Homo sapiens: one gene and its partner. The protein of the gene in region 2 interacts with the protein of the main gene of each other region in a pairwise test. Each region holds a gene or a part of one and is shown on either strand. Other genes may lie near its edges. The genes, in order: PPP6C and TRIM14.

Region 1 (8,687 bases), about 27 Mb from region 2:
GCCCGCCTCGGCCTCCCACAGTGCTGGGATTACAGGCGTGAGCCACCGCGCCCGGCTGGGAAGTGGAATTTTTTTTTTTATCAGAGGCAAGGAAACATCCAGTCTGCCCAGTAGTTCTCAAACTTTTTGGTTTCAGGATTCATTTGTGATCTTAAAAACCAGAGGTCCTGAAAATCTTTTATGTAAGTTTTACAAATCAATATTTACCATATTAGAGATTAAAACTCAGAAGTTTTAAATATTTAAATGAATTTTTAAAAATTAATAACATAGGCCAGGCACGGTGACTCACACCTGTAATCCCAGCTACTTGGGAGGCTGAGGCAGAAGAATCGCTTGAACCCGGGAGGCAGAGGTTGCAGTGAGCTGAGATCACACCATTGCACTGCAGTCTGGGTGACAAGAGTGAAATTCCATCTCAAAAAAACAAATCAATAACATACCCATCAAAAAGTATCACAAACACATTTTAATGAAAAATTAACTTTTCCAAAACAAAAAAATTGTTTAGTGAGAGGAGAATTCACATTGTTTTACATTTTCACAAATCTCTTCAATGTCTGGCTAAATAGAACATGGCTAGTCTTAGAACTTGCCTCTGCACTCAGTCTGTTGGGAATATACTAAGTAAAGCAGATGAAGAAAATCCAGCTTCACAAAGATATGCAGTTACAAAAGGAAGGAGTATTTTAATAACATTTTCAGGTAACTGTGCATACTCTTTAAATACTGTACCAAAATTTGACAAGTGGCAGTTTATGACACTTAAAAGTTAATCGCAATATGAAATCTGAAACCATAACAGTAATCTTTTGCTTTTTTTTTTTTTTTTTTGGAGACAGGATCTCTCCCTGTTGTCCAGGCTGGAGTACAGTGGCACATTCTCAGCTCAGTGCAACCTCCACCTCCCAGGTTCAAGCAATTCTCATGCCTCAGCCACCTAAGTAGCCGAGATTACAGGCACGTACCTCCACACCTGGCTAATTTTTGTATTTTTAGTAGAGACAGGGTTTCACCATGTTGCTCAGGCTGGTCTCAAACTCCTGGGCTCAAGCGATCCGCTTGCCACGGCCTCCCAAAGTGCTGGGATTGCAGGTGTGAGTCACCAGGCCTGGCCTATAATAGTCATCTTTCATACCCTGTTACATTTGTTATCTTACACTTTGAGTAAATGGTAAACTAGTAATTTGAAAAATGAAAATGACATTGCATTTTATATCATCAAAAAACCATATTTGTTAATATCACTGCTCATTTCATCTCAGGAAAGTCTTTTAAGTGTCGGAAACTGTTAGCCCCATAGTGGTGGACTCAGATTTTCCAAAATTCCAATTTTTCATTAGTAAATTCAAATTTTGTCATCGGCAACAAATACTGTCAATTGTTCTCCTTGAAGTGACTGGCCCACTTCCTTCACTTTTGCAAATATAGTTGCCAAATACCCAAGTCTAAATAATCACAGTTTGTCAGTCATTCTCAAGTAAAAATAGTGTTCCATAAAAAAGCAGTTATTTTAACTCATGACTCAAAGAATTTCACAAGTATTTTTCTTTTTCTTTTTTTTTTTTTTTTTAGCAGAGTCTCACTCTGTCACCCAGGCTGGAGTGCAATGGTGAGATCTCAGCTTACTGCAACATCCGCCTCCCAGGTTCAAGTAATTTTCCCTGCCTTAGTCCCTGAGTAGCTGGGATTACAGGCACCCACCACCACACCTGGCAATTTTTTATATTTTTTAGTAAAGATGGGGTTTTGCCATGTTGGCCAGGCTGATCTTGAACTCCCGACCTCAGGTGATCTGGTGCTGGGATTACAGGTGTGAGCCACCGTGCCCAACCCACAACTACTTTTCCTTGAGTAAACTATCTTTCTTCAGCATGCAGTAGATATGCTTTATGCATACTTCCCATTTCATCACACAGACTTTTTTCTTTTTCTTTTTAGATGGGGTCTCACTCTGCTGCCCAGGCTGGAGTGCAGTGGCACAATAATAGCTGACTATAGCCTCAAACTCCTGGGCTCAAGCAATGCTTCCACCTTAGCCTCTTGAGGAGCTAGGACTTACAGACTCACACCACCAAGCCTGGCTAATTTTTTTCTTTTTAATATTTTTAGAGATGGGGGCCAGGTGCAGCGGCTCACACCTGTAGTCCCAGCACTCTGGGAGGCTGAGGCAGGTGGATCACAAGAGGCCAGGAGTTCGAGACCAGCCTGGCCAACAGGGCAAAATCCCATCCCTACTAAAAATACAAAAATCAGCCAGGCGTGGTGGTGCGTGCCTGTAGTCCCAGCTACTCGGGATGCTGAGGCACAAGAATCACTTGAACCCGGGAGGCAGAGGCTGCAATGAACTGAGATCACACCACTGCACTCCAGCTTGGGTGACAGAGCGAGACCCTGTCCAAAAAAAAAAAAAAAAAAAAGAAATAAAAAAAAGGCCGGGCATGGTGACTCACGCCTGTAATCCCAGCACTTTGGGAGGCCGAGACAGGAGACAGGAGGATCACATGAGGTCAGGGGTTCAAGACCAGCCTCAGCAACATGGAAAAACCCCATCTCAACTAAAAATACAAAAAGTTAGTCAGGCGTGGTGGCACATGCCTGTAATCTCAGCTACTCAGGAGGCTGAGGCAGGAGAATCGCTTGAACCTGGGAGGCAGAGGTTGCAGTGAGCCAGGATCGTGCCATTGCACTCCAGCCTGGATAACAAGAGAGAAACTCTGTCTCAAAAAAAAAAAATTTTTTTTTTTTAGAGATGGGGAGTCTCAGGCCGGACGCAGTGGCTCACGCCTGTAATCCCAGCACTCTGGGAGGCCAAGGCAGGTGGATCACCTGAGGTCAGGAGTTTGAGATGGGGGGGGGGGGGGGGGGTATCATTTGGTTGCCCAGGCTGGTCTTGAACCCATGGCTTCAAGCGATCCTCCCACCTCAGCCTCCCAAAGTGCTGGGATTATAGGCATGAGCCATCATGCCCAGCCAGACTTTTCAAATAATGGATATTCTAAAGGATTGAGAGTTAAGTGAAACTGGCATTTTATTTTACTGTGCAGGCATGTTGGTGAAGAACTCAATGATAATCAGTATATTCTAGTGTCATTCCCTTGGTTCATGCTAAGGCACGAGCAGTTTTACCCTCCATTGCCTCTGTACCACCTTAGAGACCCAAGGGTCCACAGGCCACACTTAACGAATTTGTGAGCTAGCTGAAATGGCTTCTTAAACAACTAATATATAGCCAAGCCAGGATTTAAACCAAGTTGTATCTGACACTGAAATCTATAACTCCTCACTATATTACACAGCTTCAATACTTCTCAGCACAACATGCTTGCTAACATGTTTATTCATACTCATAACCCAATCCTGCAATTCCAGAACAGGCCCCAGAGGAAGATAAGTCCCAAAGGATACATTTTACATTGTATTTAATCAGTCAATAGCTATTTAGAGGCTCAAATCCCATGTTTCTGATTAGCAATCTTCTGTTTTTCATTTTTTTGAGACGGAGTTTCGCTCTTGTTGCCCAGGCTGGAGTGCAATGGCGCGATCTCGGCTCACCACAACCTCCGTCTCCCAGGTTCAAGCAATTCTCCTGCCTCAGCCTCCTAAGGAGCTGGGATTACAGGCGCCTGTCACCACACCTGGCTAATTTTTGTATTTTTAGTAGAGACGGGGTTTCACCATATTTGCCAGGATGGTCTCGATCTCTTGCCCTCGTGATCCACCCACCTCAGCCTCCCAAAGTGCTGGGATTACAGGCATGAGCCACCACACCCGGCTTATTTTTTATTTTTTATTTTTTCGAGACAGAGTCTCACTCTATTGCCCAGGCTGGGGTGCAATGCATGATCTCGGTTCACTGCAACCTCTGCCTCCCGGGTTCTAGCGATTCTCCTGCCTCAGCCTCCCAAGTAGCTGGGATTACAGGCACGCACCACCACACCTGGCTAATTTTTGTATTTTTCGTAGAGACAGGGTTTCACCATGTTGGCTAGGCTGGTCTTGAACTCCTGACCTTCTGATCTGCCTGCCTCAGCCTCCCAAAGTGCTGGGATTACAGGCGTGAGCCACTGCACCTGGAACAATTGTTTTTTAAGGAACACATACAACATAAACAATTGTTCACGGTTTGGTGGTGGTCTTAAAATAACATGTACAAAAGAAACCCAAATTAGTTTCAAATCTCAATCTGCCCTGTAGTAGCTGTGTGTGAGTTTGGGCTATTTCTCTTCAATCTTTCAGTCTCCCTTTCATTGTCTACAAAATAATCCTATCTCACAGGACTTTGGGAAAAAACTGACACAGAATATGTGAAAAAGTACTTTGTTAACCTCAAAACACAAGATATATGTTAGCAAGAACTGCACATTTGACTGAAGGTATATATAATACAAAAGTTCAATTTTATGCTTCCAATTTTAGTAGTTCGAGGTTGGTCTCTAACTTTCTGACCTTTGATCATGGCTGTACTTCACATCTTAAAAAGTCTACAACTGGGGGAAACACTACACTGGGGGAAAACATGACTTGGTTTATTCCAGTTTTCAGGAATGTGTTAAGACACTGCTTATATTAATATCCTTTATGTTAGCAAAATACAAATGTTTACTTTGAGAGAGAAGTTACATAGAAACTTCTACACTACACTGGGGGAAAACATGACTTGGTTTATTCCAGTTTTCAGGAATGTCTTAAGACACTGCTTATATTAATATCCTTTATGTTAGCAAAATACAAATGTTTGAGAGAGAAGTTACATGGAAATTTTAGGAAATCAATTCCTAAAGTCTACTCTAAAGAACTGTAATTTTAACAATCAAAGATGACATAATGGGACCTCCATCTAGGAGGTGATGACATGCAAGTGTCAGATTTTTTTATAATCTAAAAAATCCAGAAAACACCTTGAAAAACCAAAAGAAAATCAGCCTGTAAGTAAGTAGCCAAAACAAGACTTTACTCATGGAGCAGCCCCTAATCAGAGTCAATTTACACACATTTCTGCTCATTTACACAGTCATATTTAAAGCAGGGAAATTGCACAGGTGACAGTAAGTCCTGTTGGCATCCTTTAAAGACTACATTGTTTGCAATGTATTATTAAGTCTTATGGCCCCAACTACACTGTATGCATATAGCACTCTATGAGTAATCTGTTCAGCTTTCATTTCCCAGTGAAAAAATTCTACAAATATACATGAGACTAAACACTGACAACAGAATCTAAATATGAGGTATGCCCCTCCTGTTACTGCTTTGAAATTCTTTTTTTTTTTTTTAGACAGAGTCTTGCTCTGTTGCCCAGGCTGGAGTGCAGTGGTGCGGTCTCGGCTCACTGCAACCTTCACCTCCCGGGTTCAAGAGATTCTCCTGCCTCAGCCTCCTGAGTAGCTGGGATTACAGGCACGCACCACCATGCCCAGCTAATTTTTTTGTATTTTCAGTAGAGACGGGGTTTCACCATGTTGGTCAGGCTGGTCTCAAACTCCTGACCTCACGATCCACCCGCCTCAGCCACCCAAAGTGCTGGGACTACAGGTGTGAGCCACCACGCCCGGCACTGCTTTGAAATTCTTACAAACACCCAGCAGATGAAAAATTGAGCTAAATATTTTCTAGCTCATTCATCAGTGATTTGCTGTGACATCATGGACCAACAATTTTATTTTTCTGTACCTTTGCTATTCTCATTCCCACTAAAGAAATGATAAATTTTCAACAATATATGACAGGAGAACAGAAATGAACTGAATGAAAAAAGTGCCTAACACCAAAACATCTCCTGTTAATCATAGTTATTATGAGCAGTATGTGTTTGTACTTTATATCTTCTACCTACCCCCAACCCCACCATTCCACAGAAAACTAATGCTGCATTATTCACTTCACAAATGTAATTATCAACAAATTCCATCACTAATTTGACCACTGCTTTTATTCACCAAAAATGTAAACCAGGAATCATTTGTGTCACAGAGACTGAGGCAACCTAGCTTACCACCAGTTGTGTTTGTTGATGTTGTTGTTGTTTTAATTTTGCAGCACATGTGAAAACACACATGGATCATGGACAGTACAAAACTTAAAAATCTGCTCATGAAATTTTACCTGTCCATGGATATCTCCACACACTGTTACTGGTGTTGATACTGGCTGAACATTTGACTCTTCTAAGAGGAGGTCACAAACGTAGTCACATAGCCGCTATAAAAAGAGAAAATAAAAGGTAAACATTTACTACAACATTAAAACTAAAGATAAAATACCAAAAAAGAAAAATACCAGGTCTAATACTTACAAAACCCAAGTATACTTTTTGATAGGAAAGTACCCTGTGATAATTCGGGGGTTGGATTTCTGTCAGCTGTCACACAGAATTCTTAATGCAATGCAAACTACCTACAGAGACACTAAGGTTCTAGGAGACAGACAGCTTTACAAGAACTGTAAAATGATGTTTTTCACCAAACACACACACACATATACACACACACACACACACATATATATATATATATATATATATATATATATATATATGAAGAAATAATTTTAACAGTAAAAGGTTTTTGGGTTTTTTTGTTTTTTTTTTTTTTAAACGGAGTCTCACTCTGTCTCCCAGGCTGAAATGCAGTGACACGATCTCGGCTCACTTCTACCTCCATCTCCCAGATTCAAGCAATTTTCCTGCCTCAGCCTCCCAAGTAGCTGGGGTTACAGGCATGTGCCACCACACCCGGCTAATTTTTGTATTTTTAGTAGACACAGGGTTTTACCATGTTGGCCAGGCTGGTCTTGAACTCCTGACCTCAGGTGATCCACCCACCTCAGCCTCCCAAAGTGCTGGGATTACAGGCGTCAGCCACCGTGCCCAGCCAGTAAAAGATTTTTATCTGGTAATTTAAAAAATAAATTGCAAACCACACACTTACCATTTGACCCAGCAACTGTAGTCTTGGCAATAAAAACATGTTCAAAATCTGTATATAAATACTCGCAGAAGCCTAATGCATCATAGCCCAAAACTAAAAACAAATCAGATATCCTTCAATGAGTGAATGGTTAAACACATTTTGGTACATCCACACCATGTAATACTACTCAGCAATAAAAAGAAACGAATACTGCCACACAACAACCTGGATTCATCTCAAGGCATTTATGTTGAGTGAAAAAAATGAAACAACAGAAAACTGTCCCAAAAGGTTATATACTGTATAATTCCATTTATATAACCTTCTTTTTTTCCCTTTTTTTTTGAGACAGAGTCTTGGTCTGTTGCCCAGGCTGGAGTCCAGTAGCACAATTTCAGTTCACTGCAAACTGCCTCCCAGTTCAAGTGATTCCCTTGCCTCAGTCTCACAAGTACCTGGGATTACAGGCACACACCATCATGCCCAGCTAATTTTTGTATTCTTAGTAGTTTCACCATGTTGGTCAGGCTGGTCTCAAACTCCCAACCTCAGGTGATCTGCCCGCTTCGGCCTCCCAAAGTGGTGGGATTACAGGCATTGAGCCACTGCACTCGGCCGTGTTTACACATTCTTGAAATGACAAAATTAAAGAAATGGAGAACGGATTAGTTGTTGTCAGGGGTCCAGCAGTTGCAGGAAGGAAGTGGGTGTGGCTATAAAAGGGCAACATGAGGAATTCTTGTGATGATGGACCTGTTCTGTATTTTGACTATAGAGTTGGATACATGAGCCCTTACCCAATAAAACTGCAAAGAACTGAATACACACAAACACACACACACACACACACACACACACACAAACACACACACACACACACAAACACAAGTAAAACTGAAGAAATCTGAACATCATGAGGTGATGATCTTGGGTTGTACCTAAAGATCATGAGTTGTATCAGTGTCAATGTTGGCTGATGTTGTATTGGTTGTGGCATTACACTATAGTTCTACAAAATGTTACCACTGGGGAAAACTGGGTTATTTTGAAATAAAAAGGCTAACTATAATTAATTATAAAATTCAAATCTAAAACTGAGGAGCCAGCTGGGCACGGCGGCTCTCGCCTGTAATCCCAGCATTTTGGGAGGCCAAAGTGGGTGGATCATTTGAGGTCAGGAGTTCAAGACCAGCCTGACCAACATGGCAAAACCCCCTATCTCTACTAAATATAAAAATTAGGCTGGGCATGGTGAATCACGCCTGTAATCCCAGAACTTTGGGAGGCTGAGGTGGGTGGATCACAAGGTCAGGAGTTCAGGACCAGCCTGGCCAACGTAGTGAAACCCCGTCTCTATTAAAAATACAAAAATTAGCTGGGCGTGGTGGCAGGTGCCTGTAATCCTCAGCTGAGGCTGAGGCAGGAGAATCACTTGAATCTGGGAGGCAAAGGTTGCAGTGAGCCGAGATTGCACCCATTGCACTCCAGCCTGGGCAGCAGAGAGACTCCCTCTCAAAAAAAAAAAAAAAAAAAAAAAAAGTAGCCAGGCGTGGGGTGCACAGCTGTAATCCCAGCTACTCGGGAGGATGAGGCAAGAGAATCGCTTGAACCCAGGAGACAGAGGTTGCCGAAAACCGAGGTCGCGCCACTGCACTCCAGCTTGGGAAACAGGGTGAGACTCTTTCTCAAAACAAACAAACAACAACAACAACAAAAAAGATGAGCCTTTTTTAATTTTATTTTTTTGAGACAGAATCTCGCTCTGTTGCCAGGCTG
Region 2 (8,687 bases):
TGAATCATGATAGCAGAGGTGAATGAATGAATGAATGCATAAATGAATCAAAGAACAGATATTTTTGAGTACATGTTTTGTGCCAGGCCCTGGGGGGACCTCAGAGTTGGACCTAAAGCTGGTTTCTGCCCTTCACGTGCTTACAAGGGGCAAGGAGGGGGGTCCATGTATCCACTTCATGAGCACCCTCTAGCAGGACATGGGCAGGCCCTGGAGCGGGAAGGGAGAGGGGAGATGGCTAAAGGAGAGAGTGAGTCAGGGCTGGGCTGGCAGGAAAGGGCTTCCCAGGTGGGCGCAGCTGTGCCAGTCTGCCTCGAAGGGGTGCCAGGCCTTGGCCCCAGCCAGAGGAAGAGAAGGAGGAAGAGTTGGTCATTCCAGCTGGGAGCCCAGAGCAAGGCTGAGATGTGGCAGGCTCCCAGGAGCAATCTGAGGGGCAGAAGCAGGGCAGTGTGACTGGAGAAGGGCAGGTCTCAGTCTCAGGAAGGGTTGGAGGTGAAGTGGTGAGGGTGGGTTGGGCACCAGGCCCAGGAGCCCCTGACCGCCCAGCCAAGGGCCTCAGTGTGGGAGAGACAGGATGTAGGGAGATGATCTTTGCATTCGTCTCTGGGCTAAAGGACACTAGGGGAGTTAAGGACACAAAGTTGGTCACTCGGCGACTTACTTTCCTTAAGGCGAATGTCCAATGGCGTCTGTAATGTACTCTCCACGGCTTCCACGAGGCCCTTAAAGAAGCTCTTGACGGGCTCAAAGGAGAGGGGCACGGGATGGCACAGCTCCCCGAGGCTCATCTGCTGCTGCATCTCCTGCTCGGTGGCCGTGTATGCCTGTGTGGGCACACGGGGGTGAGGGTGGCTCTGGGAGATGCAGGCAGCATCCCAGCCTCCTGTGCTGCACCCAGGAACAAACCCACACCAGCATGCCCAGGCTCCACGTTGGCCTGGCACCTATGGTCAGCCCAGGCCATGCCTGCAGGAGCAGAGCCCTGGAGAGACCATACGGCATCCCTGAGGTGGGAGCCATGCGGAGGTGCGGTTTTTCAGTGCTGGCACTGGGGATTCCTCCCTCTCCATCCTTCCTCCTTTCCTTCCTTCCTTACGTGTTCATTGAAACCTACTCTGTGCCAGCTATGCATGCAGAAGGCAGGGTCAGGCTGACACGGGGCCCTTCCCAGAGAGGCTTCAGCCTCACACACACTGCGCCACGGGTCTGCCTTGGGTACAAAAAGGGTGAGAGGTCAGTCTCCCTGGGGAAGGAGCACCTGGAGCTTATTCAAAGGTGGAGCAGGAAACCATGTTCTAAGAAGGACGCCAAAGGCCAGCAAGGTTCAGCTGCAGTGCTGACTGAGGGGGTGTGGCCACCGCAGGGGACATGTGTCCTGTTTTGCACCTGGACAGCCCCTCTTCAATACTTTCCTGTGGTATGTGGCTTCACTAAGGAGAAGCTAGAAAACCCCCTCTCCCAGCTCCCTTTGCACCTGTGCTGCAGGAGTGTGACCAGACGCCTCCAAGCCAAAGCGTGGATTTGGAAATGACGGTGAAGGTAGTGATGGTGGCATGTGGCACTGAGGGACAGCAGTGGTGGGGGCTCTGGTCAGTGGTGTGAGTGGTGATGTCTTGCCCAGCAGGGGTGCCGTGGGGCCTATACTGGCACCAACCCCTGCTGGAGTCTGGACTTCATTCCTGCTGCCCATCTTCCATCCCGACTCTCTGGCCCTCCTGGAGATCCTATGGGCTATCTCATACTCTTCCATAAACTCCTTTCTTGCTTAAAACAGTTCCAGTGGATTCTCATGTTTGCAGGTAAGAACCATGGCTGCATTTTCTGAAGCTCTGTCCTGGCCAGGAGTTGGAAGGAAGATGACTGCCTCAGGTGATCAGGCTTGGCTGGCAGTGGCAGTGCTGCCCACCCGAGAAGGGGTGGACAGATGAGGGCCTCAGGAGGGAGGGAGGGTGGCCTAGCACTTGGCTGTTGGGCAGGGGCAGATCCCACCTGGCAGCATGCTGTACATTGGGAGGGGGCTGTGAGATGGCCTGCAAGCCCCATTCAGCCTAGGAGGCCAGGAGTCTATAGAGTCCAACCTCATTTTGGTGGGGAACCAGGCCTAAGGTCACACCCAGAGCGCTGGAATGGAGCTGGCCAGGGGAGACCAAGCACTAGCAGGAAGTCCAGGGTGGGCAGGGAGCAGCTCCGGGGAGGCGAGAGGGGGCTCAGAGGGCAGATGAGTAGGGTAGGATGAGGGGTCGATAGAGGACACATGGCACCACCTGGTAACCCCAAACTCCAGCAGCTAGCACCAGACCTGACACACAGGTTCTCAAAACATATGTATGATGGAATAAATCAATGCATGAAACCGAGCACAGCCACTTTTTTGCCTTTGCAGACTCAGAGAACAGAAATCCCAGCCCTTCATCTCTCAGGCCAGAAACCCAGGCATCATCTGGGGATTCCTCCTACCCATTCTCCAATTCCAATCTCCATTCCTGTGGCATCTCTTGACCTGCCTGTTTCTCCCCATCCCCACTGCCCCTGTCTTGGTCCAGGCCACCATCATCTCTCTCCTGGACATTGTGGCCTCCTCCCAAGTTCTCTTCCAGCCTCCCATCCTGGCCTCCTCTGTCCATCTTCCACTCTATCTCTAAAGTGACTTTTCTAAAGCACTAATCTGACCATGTGAATGCTTTCATCCCTCAGTTCAAAACACTCCCCTGGGCTGGGTGCAGTGGCTCACACCTCCCAGCTCTTTGGGAGGCCAAGGTGGGCAGATCACTTGAGGTCAAGAGTTTGAGACCAGCCTGGCCAACATGGTGAAACACTGTCTCTACTAAAAATACAAAAATTAGCTGGGCATGGTGGCACGTGCTTGTCGTCTCAGCTCTTCCAGGGGCTGAGGCAGGAGAATCCCTTGAACCTGGGAGGCAAAGGTTGCAGTAAGCTGAGATTGAGCCACTGCATTCTAGCCTGGGCAATAGAGTGAGACCCTGTCTCAAAAACAAACAAACAAACATTCCTGTCTCCTATCTCATTACAGGACAAAGTCTGAACTCCATGGCACATAAGGCCTTCATGAACTAACTATGGCCTATGGATCCAGCTGTGTCTCTCAATCCCCCCACCCTTATACCCTCACCTCTCCTCAAGTCAGGCTGCACCCCAGCTGGTTCCCCAGCCTGTCAAGCTCTCACATGTACACAGTTCCTGTCTGTCCTCTCTGCGTCCTCTCTATATACAGTGTGCTCCTACTCATTGTCCAGCACCCAACCCTACCATCACCTCTTCCTAGAAGTCTTCCCAGACTGCATCCTTCTCCCAGCCAGAGAGTGTCAGACATTTCTTGGACATAATTTTGCTAGCTTCATATTTACAAAATTGTTTAAGCTGTATTGTAAATAACTGTTTCTGAGCAAGTCCCCCACCCAACTGTGAGCTCCTAATGTCCAGCAAGTGACCTGGCTCAGTACATATTGATGAATAAACGAATGAACACATAGAAGGTGGGAACGGTGAATGATTAAAATCATTAGCTGTGGCCCAAGAGAATTTGAAAAAAAAAGATGACAAAGCCCTGAAACCGTTTTCTGATGTGAGAATAGCATGCTTCTCCATGGAAGGATTCCTTTGTATTCCATAGCCTTAAAAACGACCATTATTTAAAAAGAGACAATTACATGTAACACTTTGTGCATCTTGCCTCTCTTAAAGCACAACACCCATTATGCCTAGGAAAACACTTCATCCAGAATTTGGCTCAAACAGCTGACAATGAGACACAGGCTGAACCGACTGAGGCCACATAAAGACACAAGAGTGGAAATCCCCAGCTGGAGACTGGCTTGGCGGGTTTTGTGTTGACTGGCTTATTTGTCTGTCTTATTTTCCAGCCAGAGCCCATACTAATCTGTGGTTAGAGTTGGTGCCACTTTTAGTTGTACCCTGCCTTGTCCCACAGCCTTTAAAGTGTCTTGTGAAGGTCCTCTAATAAGGCAAGATTTTTCTTTATAGCGAGAAAAATGAAGCTAAGAGAAAATTAGACACAAAGTGTTTGCCATGAAGCCTTAGTCTGGTTAGTCAAAGCAGATTTGGCTCTGAACTTCCCAAGGCAAAGAAGGAAACAGGAGGAGCTCTATTAGTGGAAAAGCAATTCTAGTGCAGAAGTGACTGCACAGGGATATTGACACCAGACAACAGTTTCTTCCACGGTTCCCTAAAGACAGGAACACCATCGGCCGGGTGCGGTGGCTCACGCCTGTAATCCCAGCACTTTGAGGGGCCGAGGGGGGCGGATCACGAGGTCAGGAGATGGAGACCATCCTGGCTAACATGGTGAAACCCCATCTCTACTAAAAAATACAAAAAATTAGCTGGGCGTGGTGGGGGGCGCCTGTAGTCCCAGCTACTCGGGAGGCTGAGGCAGGAGAATGGTGGGAGGTGGAGCTTGCTGTAAGCCGAGATCACACCACTGCACTCCAGCCTGGGCGACAGAGCAAGACTCCGTCTCAAAAAAAAAGAAAAAAGTAGACAGGAACACCATCCTCAACAACATGCTTTCTCTAAATGTAGCAATGACTATCCCTGGGGCTAGTTCTTTTCTTTTTTTTGAGACAGAGTCTCACTCTGTTACCCGGCCTGGAGTGCAGTGGCATGATCTCGTTACTCACTGCAATCTTTGCCTCCCCGATTCAAGTGATTCTCCCACCTCAGCCTCACAGGTGCACGCCATCACGCCTGGCTGATATTTGTATTTTTAGTAGAGAGGTGGTTTTGCCATGTTGGTCAGGCTGGTCTCAAACTTCTGGCCTCAAGTGATCTGCCACAGGGGCTATTTCTTAGACTCTTCCTCAACAAAGCCCAGTGGCCAAGGAGTACCATTGAGCCAGCTGTGACTCAGCCTTTGAAATGTGCTCAGTAGCTGCAAGGACACCTGCCTTTTCAGGTGGGGTGTCTCAATTTAAGACTATAAAGGCAGGCTGATTGCGGTGGCTCACACCTATAATCCCAGCACTTTGGGAGGCTGAGGTGGGCGGATCACCTGAGGTCAGGAGTTCAAGACCAGCCTGACCAACGTGGAGAAACCCTGTCTCTACTAAAAATACAAAATTAGCCACGCATGGTGGCACATGCCTGTAATCCCAGCTACTCAGGAGGCTGAGCCAGGAGAACTGCTTGAACCCAGGAGGCAGAGGTTGTGGTGAGCTGAGATCGCACCACTGTACTCCGGCCTGGGCAACAAGAGAGAAACTCCATCTCAAAAAAAAAAAAAAAAAAAAAAGACTGTACAGTCAGAGGGCCAGGCAGGGTCCCTTGTGGGTTTAGAGTCAGACAGACCTAGACAGACAGCCAGACCTGATACCAGCTCTGCTACCTACCTGCTGTGTGAGACCAGGTGAGTCACTTCACTGAGCCTCAATTTCTTGTTTATAAAATGGGGTGAGCCCACTTTGCAGAGTTCTGGTGAATATTAGTGCTAAACTACACAGTGCTCAGGACACAGGGGCCTTTGAAATTGGTGGCTGTTAATATTATTTAATTAGCCCAAGAGGTGTATTATCTTCCTAACAATGTATATTCTCTTGACCACCTGTGTGGGGGCAAGACAGTCTACATGGTGACAAGACAATAGTCCATGTACTTGCTTAGTGTGTCAATACTGTGCTCAATGCCACAATACTTGAGATGAAGTGTGGGTGGCAGGTGGCAGCAGTAAGAGCAGTGACCCCAGCATTACCTGAAGCCTCTGGACAGGATCGGGCTCCTGGCTGATACTCCAGACCCTGTTGGAGAGATCATTCATGATGTCAAGTTGCTCTCTGCAAGAGTCAGCTTGTTCCCTGTACACCTGGAGGGTAAGCTGCGTGTTTTTATCAATGAATTTCTTGGCCAGCGCTTCCTCTTCGTCAAGTAGTAATCTGAGTTCAGTGAATTTCCCCTTCAGCCAGGTTTTACTTGACTCTGCATTAGCCTAAAAACAGAAAAACCAGTTGCAGATGACATGTCTGCCAACCAGGAAATCCAGAATAATCAACATGAAAAAAATCATAACGTCTGAAATGTGAGTTCAGTAAAGTGGCCAGTCAGACACAAGATCAACTTATAAAAACCAAAGCTTTCCTAAGCACCAGCCCATCACCGATCGTAAAATGCACGGAGAAATAAAGATCCTTTTGAAAATGGGAGAAAAAATAGCAAAATATGTGGAAATATACCTAATACAAAACCATATTCGTGACTGGGAGGGTTGATTACTATAAAGTCACTATTTGTCTCTAAATTAGTCTATAAATTTGATGAAATTCTAATCAAAATCTTAACATGCTGATTAAAAATTATTAAATCATTAGGAGAGAGAATAAGCATAAGAAAAGCCAAAATTGCTTTAAAAAAATCAATAAAGAGAAAACTGATAAGAGGTTATCTGCCTTATCTGCCTTATCTGATAACAAAACAATAAATCTACAGGATCTAAAACCATGTGGCTCAAGCATAGATAAGAGGTCAAAAGTACAAAATAAAGAGCTTTTAAAAGAACTCAAATTATATATGGAAATGTATGTATGTGTATGTGTGGTGTAACAGTGGCATTTTAGAACAAATTTTTGTATTTTTTGTACTAAAAATATAAAAGTAAAAATAATTAAAATAATATGAGATTTTCCACAATGAAAGGTTAAGGAAAACAAACAAAAGAGAAGGTCCAGTTAAACTAAAACACTGTACATAAAGCCCAAAGAATAAATCAATTAGATGAAATACAAAACAATTTTTATTTATTTATTTATTTATTTTTATTTTTTGAGAAGGAGTTTCACTCTTGTCCAGGCTGAGTGCAGTGGTGCGATCTTGGCTCACAGCAACCACTGCCTCCCAGGTTCAAGCGATTCTCCTGCCTCAGCCTCCTGAGTAGCTGGGATTACAAGCACGCACCACCACACATAGGTAATTTTGTATTTTTAGTAGAGACGGAGTTTCACCATGTTGGTCAGGCTGGTCTTGAACTTCTGACCTCAGGTGATCCACCTGCCTCAGCCTCCCAAAATGCTGAGATTACAGGCATGAGACACCATGCCCAGCCCAGAAAATAGTTTTTGATCATTAGATTGGAAGACTTTTAAGAGACTGAAATACAGTCTGTAAGGGTATGTGAAGTAGGGCATTTATATAAACTGTGGGTGGTAGGGTCTATTGGTACTTCGCTTTTAGAGGACAATACGACAATAGCTATCAATTTTTTTTTTTTTTTCAGACGAAGTTTTGCTCTTGTCGCCTAGGCTGGAGTGCAATGGCAAGATCTCGGCTCACTGCAACCTCCGCTTCCCGGGTACAAGCGATTCTCCTGCCTCAGCCGTGTAGCTGGGACTGCAGGTGGCCATCACCATGCCTGGCTAATTTTTGTATTTTTAGCAGAGACAGGGAGTCACTGTTGGCCAGGCTGGGTCTTGAACTCCTGACCTCAGGTGATCTGCCTGCCTTGGTCCCCCAAAGTGCTGGATTACAGGCATGAGCCACTGCACCTGGCCTCAAAGTTTTAAATACATTTATTCTTTCATGCAGCAATTCCTCTTACTTTACTTATATCCTAGAAAATGCTTTCACATGTGCATGAAGATTTGTGTACCAAGATTCTCAGTATATAGCTTCTACACATAGAGAATAGAATTGGGCAAGTGTAGTGGTAGGTGTCTGTAATCCCAGCTACTTGGGAGGCTGAGGCTTGAGAATCACTTGAGCCCGGGAGGTGGAGCTTGCAGTGAGCTGAGATCAGGCCGCTGCACCCCAGCCTGGGCGACAATGCAAGACTTTGACTCAAAAAAAAAAAAAAAAAAGAAAAGAAAAAAACATTGAAAAATGGGCGTCACTAGCAGAAACAGAAACAACAGCAGTGGGGAGCGAACGTTCTGAGAAATAGGGTCAACCACAAACAGCTCACTAGCACTCAAGCATCCTGTTACAAGCACTCAACTCACAGTCCACCTGCACCCAGGCATCCTGTCTGCAAGCATTCAGCTCAAGCAGCACAACCTTAGAAAACTCCACCTCCAGCTCCTGCCTCTTTGCAGACAGTCTTCTTTCTGCTGTCTCACCCATTGCTCCCTTTCAATGTATCTCCCCCTTTTCTCTAAATAAATCTGCCTTTCTAAACTCAATGCTGTTTTGGTAAATTATTTTATTCCCCTGTGCACCAGCCTCAGACAGTTGTTAACCATGACATATTTGGCACAATTTTCAATATGGGATATGTATATCGGTTCATTATATAAATTGTCCTACATTCGTACAATGAAATAATTTATAGCGATTACAAAGAATGCAGTGTGCTGATGCATGCTAAACATGGATGAACCTCGAAGACATCATCCCCAGTGAATTAAGCCAGACAAAAAAGGACAAATAATTTATCATTCCGCTTATGTGAAACATCTAGACCAGGCAAATTTATAGAGACAGAAAGTAGAGTCGACGTTACCAAGGGCTGGGAGAGGGGAAATGGGGAGTAATTGCTTGATGGTTTCAGAGTTTCTGTTTGGGATAATGAAAAAGTTTTGGAAGTAGACACAGGTGATGGCTATACAACATTGTGAATATAATTCATACCACTGAATTGAATACTTTAAAATGGTTAAAATGGCAAATTTTATGTTATGTATATTTTATCACCATAAAAAAAAAGAAGAAGAAAATATAACAACAAA

Evidence for each region.
Region 1: the proteins of TRIM14 (region 2) and PPP6C interact in a two-hybrid assay, tested with the Homo sapiens proteins (one study listed by BioGRID).

Annotation. Positions count from the first base shown.
Region 1 is NC_000009.12:125,164,980-125,173,666, forward strand, and holds part of PPP6C (serine/threonine-protein phosphatase 6 catalytic subunit), read right to left. Parts: intron 7,038-8,687; exon of another isoform or gene 6,969-7,037; coding exon of another isoform or gene 6,930-6,968; intron 6,202-6,929; coding exon 6,106-6,201; intron 1-6,105.
Region 2 is NC_000009.12:98,094,206-98,102,892, forward strand, and holds part of TRIM14 (tripartite motif-containing protein 14), read right to left. Parts: intron 5,960-8,687; coding exon 5,726-5,959; intron 825-5,725; coding exon 662-824; intron 1-661.